2 separate regions of the Homo sapiens genome follow, and region 2 is linked to region 1. Evidence: fine-mapped expression QTL. A gene starts in region 1. The other region holds a variant in brackets. All regions are shown on one strand. Distances are between the middles of the regions.

Region 1 (4,364 bases):
CAGGCTGGAGTGCAGTGGCGGGATCTCGGCTCACTGCAAGCTCCGCCTCCCGGGTTCACGCCATTCTCCTGCCTCAGCCTCCCAAGTAGCTGGGACTACAGGCGCCCGCCACTACGCCCGGCTAATTTTTTGTATTTTTAGTAGAGACGGGGTTTCACCGTTTTAGCCGGGATGGTCTCGATCTCCTGACCTCGTGATCCGCCCGCCTCGGCCTCCCAAAGTGCTGGGATTACAGGCGTGAGCCACCGCGCCCGGCCTACTGCTCACTCTTTGGGTCCACTCTGCTTTCATGAGCTGTAACACTCACCGTGAAGATCTGCAGCTTCACTCCTGAGCCCAGCGAGACCACGAGCCCACCGGGAAGAACGAACAACTCCAGAGGCTCTGCCTTAAGAGCTGTAACACTCACCGCCTAGGTCTGCAGCTTCAATCCTGAGCCAGCGAGACCACGAACCCACCAGAAGGAAGAAACTCCGAACACATCTGAACATCAGAAGTAACAAACTCCAGACGCACCACCTTAAGAGCTGTACCCACTCACCGCGAGGGTATGCGGCTTCATTCTTGAAGTCAGTGAGACCAAGAACCCACCAATTCCAGACACACTATGGGCTCACAGCGTGTACTCGCGCACACGCAGTCAGGTGTGGATGTACACCCGCGCACACCCAGGCACATGTACACCCGCGCGCTCACACACCCCATCCAGCTACAGCAGAATTCTGGCCAGGCTGTTGACCGCACACCTGCTGCCTCCTTGGCCACCCTGTCCACACAGTAGCCCGATCGACCCCCGTGGCGGCCGAGACCCAGGCCCATCCGCAGCCCTGAGACCTCCCTAGGGATTGCACCCAGCAGCCAGTCACCGGCCTCCGCGGCCTGGCCAGTTGAGGGTGGCCGTGACCGCGGGGCCAGGAGCGCCGCCACATCTCGGGGCAAATGGCGCGGGGGAAGAGTTTCCTCCTCAGCCTCCCCGTCTCCGATCGCTCCGCAAACTCCAGAGCGAGGCACGCGCCTTTAAAGGCAGGTCCGCGGCTCTCCCACGTCCTGGCGCCCGGTTTTCCGCACCCAGTGTCCCCACAGCTGTGCCCGGGCACAGAGGCGCGGCCAGACCGCACTCCGCGGGCTGCAGGTGTCCCGGCCTCTGGCGGCGCCGGTGCGGCCCGGAGGTGGGAGCCCGCGGAGCCACTGCAGTAGCTGGAGTCCCGCCGAGTCCCCAGCCCCAAGGCAGGGCAGGAGCGCGCACCGGCCGGAGGTCCATGCTGAGCATCGCCCGCGCCGGTGCCCGGCAGCCTCTCCAACTGTGTGGTCCCCGCGCGGGCAGAGAGGCACGGACTGCAGGCCGTGGGCAGCTCCATCTTCCCGCGTCCTCCTCCTCTGGCGCTGCCCGCTGTCTCCCGCCTTCCCTCTGCTCCCCGCTCGCCTCCGCCTCAGCGCCCCGCTGACCTCGCCTCCTCCCCTCTGCTCTTTGTCCCTGCACTCTCCCCTCCTCGGTCCTCTGACCCCCCCGCCCTCACCTCCTCCCCTCCTCTCTCCCCTGCCCGCCCCGCGCTCTCCCACCGCTCCCGCCGCCCCCGCCGCCGCGGCTGCCACTCCGCCCCCCGCGCCGCACGGAGCTTCAGTAATAACCCCGGCGCGGCGGCGGAGTCGCTGTGGGGAATCCTCCCGCGCTCTGCCTGGGTCGGGTCCTCCCTGCCCGCTCGCACGCTGCCGGCCGGGGACCCTCCGGTGGCCCCTAGCCCCTCGGAGCGCTCCTGGATGAAGCCCCGCGCGCGCGGATGGCGGGGCTTGGCGGCGCTGTGGATGCTGTTGGCGCAGGTGGCCGAGCAGGTGAGTCCCGGGCGCTCCCACCAGCGCGGAAACCGCGGGTCCGGACAGCTGGAGGCGAGTCCCCCGCGGCTCCTCTCCCGCGGACCCCGCCGTCTCACCGCGATGTCGCCGCTGTTTTCCGCAGGCACCTGCGTGCGCCATGGGACCCGCAGCGGCAGCGCCTGGGAGCCCGAGCGTCCCGCGTCCTCCTCCACCCGCGGAGCGGCCGGGCTGGATGGAAAAGGGCGGTAAGTCCGTGAGGTGGGGGCTTCTAATCCTTGCCATTTAGCAGCTCGTAATCTCCGTGCCGCTGGTTTATTAGGTGCTGTGAATGTTCACGACTCTGTGGAACCCTACTTTTAAGATGCTGTTGTGAACTTTTTTTTTTTTTAACTGTATGAGCGAGCCCCGATGAGTGGATTTCCACCAATATTTACATTTTATTCCCTGGCAAAACGGTTTGCCAGAGTTATTGATATAACATTAGGAAAAAGGTGAGGAAGTTCATTTTATTTTATTCTAAAGAGCTTAGGAAGAATCTAAAGCTATTAATGTATGCATCAAAGCCGTCATAAAGAGCAAATTACTTTCTTTTCCGTCCCCTTCTACATCCTCGGATCCTCCTTCCCGTCCCCAACCTTTCCTCCTTCTCCTCCTTTATAGATTAAAATATTCCTCTATCGTTGCTTATTCTCAGTGAAGGAGATAAAAGAAGCGCTTAGCATCTCAATACCAAAGTTAATGCTCCAACAATCAGGGCGTACTTCAAACATAATAGTGCCTGAAATGGCTAATCAGCTGATTGTGACACCATCAGCAACGTTCATATCCTGGGCCACAATTTGACATGAGGGCAAGTCTTATTCTTTTTCAATGCATGCTTTTACTTCTGCCACTTACAAGTGACATTTGGAAATTTGCTGTCTTATGGAAAGGGATCTCTGTGTCTTCATACTGCATCAGGTAAATGAGAACGCAGGTGTGTCGCACTGGTTGCTAGGTGGTTTTTTAACCTGAACCCATCCAATGACAGTTAATAAATATTATTTTGCATTGTTACCAACAATAAATTGCCGTATCAAATGTTAATATTAATTGACTTTTATAGGAAGAACTAGGTTTCATTCTCTCAATGTATTTCCAGAAGATCTAGAAAATTAAAGTTAACAATTCAGAATTTCTCAGTATAGTTATTTCAATTTGATAAAATAACATAAAGGCAAGCACTTAATATATGCATTAACTTTTGAAATTATTCCCTGCCAAATGAGTACACAAATAGTATATAAGGTGACCGGTGTCAGATTGACGCTCACCATAGTACCTTTTTGAGAACCACCAGGGGGCGCTAGGTGCAAATGATATAAAATGTTAAAAAAAATTGTCACAGTGAATTTACAAGAGAAAGTTAATTATCTGTCCATTTACAGACTATCCTCTTGTGGTTGTCCTTGTCCTTTTTAGGGTTTTGCTTACAATACTAAAAGTTAATTCTTACAATTTTAAAGGTTAATTCTAATTCACCTTTTTAAGTAAGATTTTTGTAAAAAAAAAAAAAAAAATTCTAGTTCCCTAAAACCATGAAAATTCCAGAGGGACTCAGGAGATTTCCACAATAGTTTATGGCATTTATGAAGTTTTATTTAAGATAAAACACATTATAGACACAGAAGAAAGAAGAAGAAAAGCCAGGGCTTCGTGCCTAAGTGTGCTTTTCTCCTAAAGTGATTCAATCTGCTTCAGCATCCTCTCTGGGAGTGGGGTGCCAGTGTGCTGCTCTGAACACCTGGCACCACAGTTGTTGTCACAACGTATCGTCTCCATGACAACCACTTATCTGGCTTGGTAAGAACCTGAAGGGGAAGAGGCAAACCCTTCTTAGTGAAGTTCTAGCCCAGTGGACACAGCACACACCCTCCTCCCCTACCTTCTATGCACTTTAGCTCCTTAATTATAAATGGCTAATGTGTGAGTCTGGACATCCACAACAAGCTTTTATGCCACCAGAGAAAAGATCCTCCTCAACAGTGTTGCCTGTTTCCCTCTGACCTGGAGCAGAAGAGCTAGAAGACACTTGGTGACTGCTGGGGTCAACTTACTGTTGCCTGTCTAGGTATCCATTAGACAAGTTGGTTCTGAAATAACTAATTGTAGCCATACATTTTGTTTAAAGTAGCGCATGACTCAAACTATTATTGCAAATCATTCTTGGTGGCTGAAGTAATTACAAAATAGCAAAGAGAACAAAGCTGGAGGTGTCACACACTACCTACCTGACTTCAAACTATGCTACAAGGCTACAGTAACCAAAAAAGCATGGTACTGGTACCAAAACAGATATATAGATCAATAGAACAGAACAGAGACCTCAGAAATAACACCACGCATCTACAACCACCTGATCTTTGGCACATCTGACAAAAACAAGCAATGGGGAAAGGATTCCCTATTTAATAAATGGTGCTGGGAAAGCTGGCTAGCCATATGAAGAAAACCGAAACTGGACCCTTCCTTACACCTTATACAGAATCTAACTCAAGGTGGATTAACTATTT
Region 2 (4,393 bases), 77 kb after region 1:
TGGGATTGCTGGATCAAATGGTAGTTCTACTTTTAGTTCTTTAAGGAATCTCCACACTTTTTTCCATAGTGGCTTTACTGGTTTACATTCCCACCAGCAGTGTAGAAGCGTTCCCTGTTTACCACATCCACACACAAACATCTACTGTTTTTTGATTTTTTAGTTATGGCCATTCTTGCAGGAGTAAGTGGTATTGCATTGTGATTTTGATTTGCATTTCCCTGATCATTAGTGATGTTGAGCAGTTTTTCATATGTTTGTTGGCCATTTGTATATCTTCTTTTGAGAATTGTCTATTCATGTCCTTAGCCCATTTTTTTTTTCTTACTGATTTGTTTGAGTTCATTGTAGATCCTGGATATTAGTCTTTTGTCAGACGTATAGATTGTTAAGATTTTCTCTCACACTGTGGATTGTCTGTTTACTCTGCTGACTGTTTCTTTTGCCACGTGAAAGCTCTTTAGTTTAATTAGGTCCCAGCTATTTATCTTTGTTTTTATTGCATTTGCTTTTGGGTTCTTGGTCATGAAATTCTTTTTTTTTTTCTATTTTTTTTTATTATACTTTAAGTTTTAGGGTACATGTGCACATTGTGCAGGTTAGTTACATATGTATACATGTGCCATGCTGGTGCGCTGCACCCACTAACTCGTCATCTAGCATTAGGTATATCTCCCGATGCTATCCCTCCCCCCTCCCCCCACCCCACAACCGTCCCCAGAGTGTGATATTCCCCTTCCTGTGTCCATGTGATCTCATTGTTCAATTCCCACCTATGAGTGAGAATATGCGGTGTTTGGTTTTTTGTTCTTGCGATAGTTTACTGAGAATGACGATTTCCAATTTCATCCATGTCCCTACAAAGGACATGAACTCATCATTTTTTATGGCTGCATAGTATTCCATGGTGTATATGTGCCACATATTCTTAATCCAGTCTATCATTGTTGGACATTTGGGTTGGTTCCAAGTCTTTGCTATTGTGAATAATGCCGCAATAAACATACTTTGACAAACTGAGAAAAACAAGCAATGGGGAAAGGATTCCCTATTTAATAAATGGTGCTGGGAAAACTGGCTAGCCATATGTAGAAAGCTGAAACTGGATCCCTTCCTTACACCTTATACAAAAATCAATTCAAGATGGATTAAAGACTTAAACATTAGACCTAAAACCATAAAAACCCTAGAAGAAAACCTAGGCATTACCATTCAGGACATAGGCATGGGCAAGGACTTCATGTCTAAAACACCAAAAGCAATGGCAACAAAAGACAAAATTGACAAATGGGATCTAATTAAACTAAAGAGCTTCTGCACAGCAAAAGAAACTACCATCAGAGTGAACAGGTCATGAAATTCTTTTCTAAGCCAGTGTCTAGAAGGGTTTGTCCAATGTTATCTTCTAGAATTTTTATAGTTTCAGGTCTTAGGTTTGAGTCTGTAATCCGACTCAAGTTGAAGAGTGTAGTACAGACAATTTGAGGAAGTGAATCTGGTAGTGTGCCATTCACAATATTGAAGCACCACAATGCAGTTTCAGCCCAGCCATCTGAAAATGTTGGTTTTACCTGGGGTGTTATGTTGTGGTGTTAAACCTTAACCAAGTTGGTATTACTGAAATTGGTTTTTGTGAACATAACTCTTAAATTATGGACTAGAATAAAAAGAGAGAGGCTTCATTAAAGATAGTATACCTTAGCTACAAAGATAAAGCAAGAGTAAATACTCTGCGTAGGTTTTGACTCTTTTCTGCCCAAGTTAGGTATTTGTTATTAAAAACATTTTGTCTTCATCGTGTACCTATCATGCTTTATCATCATTGCTTTGGTGGCCTGACCCTGCAATCTGAAACATAAGCCGCCAGAATTGCTTTGAAATTTGATCACCTCAGCATCCTAGGTACTGTTGTTAAATTGGGAGTAACCCCAAAACCCAGCAAGTCTTACATTCCAACTGCCTGGACTCTAGAACCGTGATTTAATAGGATCTTTGTTCCAAGAAGACTCTGAAGTTTCATTAAGGATATAATGACCTACAACAATAGTGCTTTAATAAAACCATGGTATGTTATGTACCATAAAGTTAGCAGTTAAGTCAAAGTGATAAAGTTGGACAGGACAATTGGTTTTTGGCTGCTCATTTGTAGTTTACTTTTCTTTTTTTAACTTTTTCTATTTAATGTTTATGGATACAGAATGGTTGCACATATTTATGGGGTGCTTGTAATACATCGATACTGAAACAGAAGAGTTCCATTTTCCCCCTTGCAGGACATGAGACAGGGGTGTGGCTCGCTCCTTCTGTCACCCCTCTGCTCAAACCCCTAGTGGGAGCACGCAGACAGGCAGGTACAGAGACTGTGGGGAGCACTCTTGGGCTCCGGCCCCACGGCAGCCTCTAGGAGTGGGTGTCTGCAACTCCCAAAGCCCAAGTGAGCATGTGTTACGGTGTGCTCCTTCAGCTTCTCCATCTGTGGATGGCTTGTGTTAACCAGTTCAATAGACCCTGTGCCTTATTCCAAGGGCAGAGGGCCAGTGTGACAGCTTTCTGTATCCTAAGCTCTTTCCCAGTG[T/C]ACTGGAAAAACTGGGTCACCCCTGTGGCCTCAAAGATGAGTGCGAGGTTTTATTGAGTAGTGGAGGTGGCTCTCAGCAAGGTGGATGGGGAATCAGAAGAGCAGGATGGAGTGGGAAGGTGGTCTTCCCCTGGAGTCAGGCTGCCCAGTGGCCAGACCCTTCTCTGGCTGCCCCCAGCTGAATTCCCCTTAGCATCCAGACATCCCTCCTCTCTTCCTCTGCCACGTCATTCATCTTTCCACCGTCACTGGTCTGCCGGTCTGCTGGTGTCTGCTGGTCTGTTCCTCTGCTTCTCTTGACCACGTTCAGCCACTGTGTGTGCCCATTAAGGTCTCAGGTTTCCACGGGCACAGGATCGGGGGCGTGGCAGGCCAGAGTAGTCTTGGAAAATGCGACATTTGGGCATGAAAACAGGAGTGTCTGTTCTCACTTAGGTCTGTGGTACAGGCCTGAGTGTGGAGCCCTCTCCAGGGACCCCCCCTTCTCTACTCAGCAACTCCCTGCCCCCTCCCATATCAATACAGGCGTACAATGTGTAATATTCAAAGCAGAGAAACTGGGATATCCTTCACCTTAAATGTTCATCATTTATTTGTGTAAAGAACATCACACTCTTCTAGTTATCTTGAAATATACAATAAATTGTTGTTAACTATCGTCACCCTATGGCCCTACTAAACATTAGGTGTTATTCCTTTTATCTAACTGTATTTTTGAACCCATTAACCAACTCCTCTTTATTCCTCCCATCCCCCTCCACTACACTTCTCAGCCTCCGGTAACTATCATTCCACCACTACAAAATCCATTTTTTCACTTCCACGTGTGAATGAGAATGTACAATATTTTTATTTTGTCATCGCAACTCTTTAAGACACTATAGTTTTTATTCGTTTGTATGGGACAGAGTGTCATGTTTATTAAATGGCAGACAAGTACATCTACAGGATACCAAGGTCCCAAATTATGTTTTAAGTGTTGAAAGACAATACCGTGGGTTATATGATCGTCAGTTTCTTCTAACTTTGTGATTTATTCCAGCCTTGAGGACTGGAGTTGGGGATTGAGCAGGTCCCAAAATGAGGCTGAAAAACACAGATGGCATGAGCCGAATCACAGACTGAATTAGAGAGCCACATGACTTGGCAGTGAGCTGTCACCAGCATCCTATATTTGAAGGCTTTATACTTTAAAAAGTTGAAAGCCCAAACCTTTAACAATATCATCATCAGTATTTATTCTGCAAAATGCTCCCCAAAACTAAAACCTAAGAATATTCTGAAGTTACTCTGAATGGTAGTCTGAATCATGGTCATCTTAAGTCATCTTTGGCTTTTTATGATCACGATTTCCTGATTCTTGCTAATGTTATTGTACGTAAAGCTTTCCTGGTCCTCTGTCACTGGTTTTCACAGGAGCAAATGACTACATGTTCCATGTGCCCAGAAAGCATTTATTGAAAGACGAGTAGCAAGCACTGTACCAGATAATGATAAGGAACATAGTAAAATAATTTAACTTTTTTTTTTTTTTTTTTTTTGAGATGGAGTCTCACTCTGTCACCCAGTCTAGAGTACAGTGGTGCCATCTCGGCTCACTGCGACCTCTAACTTCCAGGTTCACGCCATTCTCCTGACTCAGCCTCCCGAGTAGCTGGGACTACAGGCACCCGCCACCACGCCTGGCTAATTTTTTATATTTTTAGTAGAGACGGGTTTCACTGTGTTAGCCAGGATGATCTCGATCTCCTGACCTCGTGATCCGCCCGCCTCGGCCTCCCAAAGTGCTGGGATTACAGGTGTGAGCCACCGCGCCCG

Which allele goes with the higher level. Positions count from the first base shown, and alleles are read on the strand shown. Sizes are in standard deviations (SD) of each study's normalised expression.
For the expression in cerebellum of the gene that starts at base 1,621 in region 1, allele T in region 2 goes with a higher level than allele C (moderate effect, 0.74 SD a copy in GTEx).

The links. PIP is the estimated chance that this variant, and not a neighbour inherited with it, causes the effect. A credible set is the group of variants that fine-mapping cannot tell apart.
Region 2: its variant is the best candidate, but not a certain one, in a credible set for the expression of ADAMTS16 in cerebellum (GTEx, PIP 0.89).

The regions. Positions count from the first base shown.
Region 1 is chr5:5,138,710-5,143,073 of GRCh38, forward strand. It overlaps ADAMTS16 (ADAM metallopeptidase with thrombospondin type 1 motif 16), which reads left to right and starts at 1,621. Exons shown (of 23, transcript NM_139056.4): 1 at 1,621-1,830; 2 at 1,955-2,057. The coding sequence starts at 1,759. ADAMTS16-DT (ADAMTS16 divergent transcript) reads right to left here and starts at 1,345. Exons shown (of 4, transcript NR_109915.1): 1 at 1,247-1,345. ADAMTS16-AS1 (ADAMTS16 antisense RNA 1) reads right to left here. Exons shown (of 2, transcript NR_198969.1): 2 at 3,429-3,662. RefSeq lists an enhancer at 827-1,393.
Region 2 is chr5:5,216,062-5,220,454 of GRCh38, forward strand. All of the region lies in intron 10 of ADAMTS16 (ADAM metallopeptidase with thrombospondin type 1 motif 16), which reads left to right. Among named protein-coding and RNA genes, the nearest start is that of ADAMTS16-AS1, 42 kb to the left of the region's middle. The variant T/C (reference allele first, on the strand shown) is at 2,576.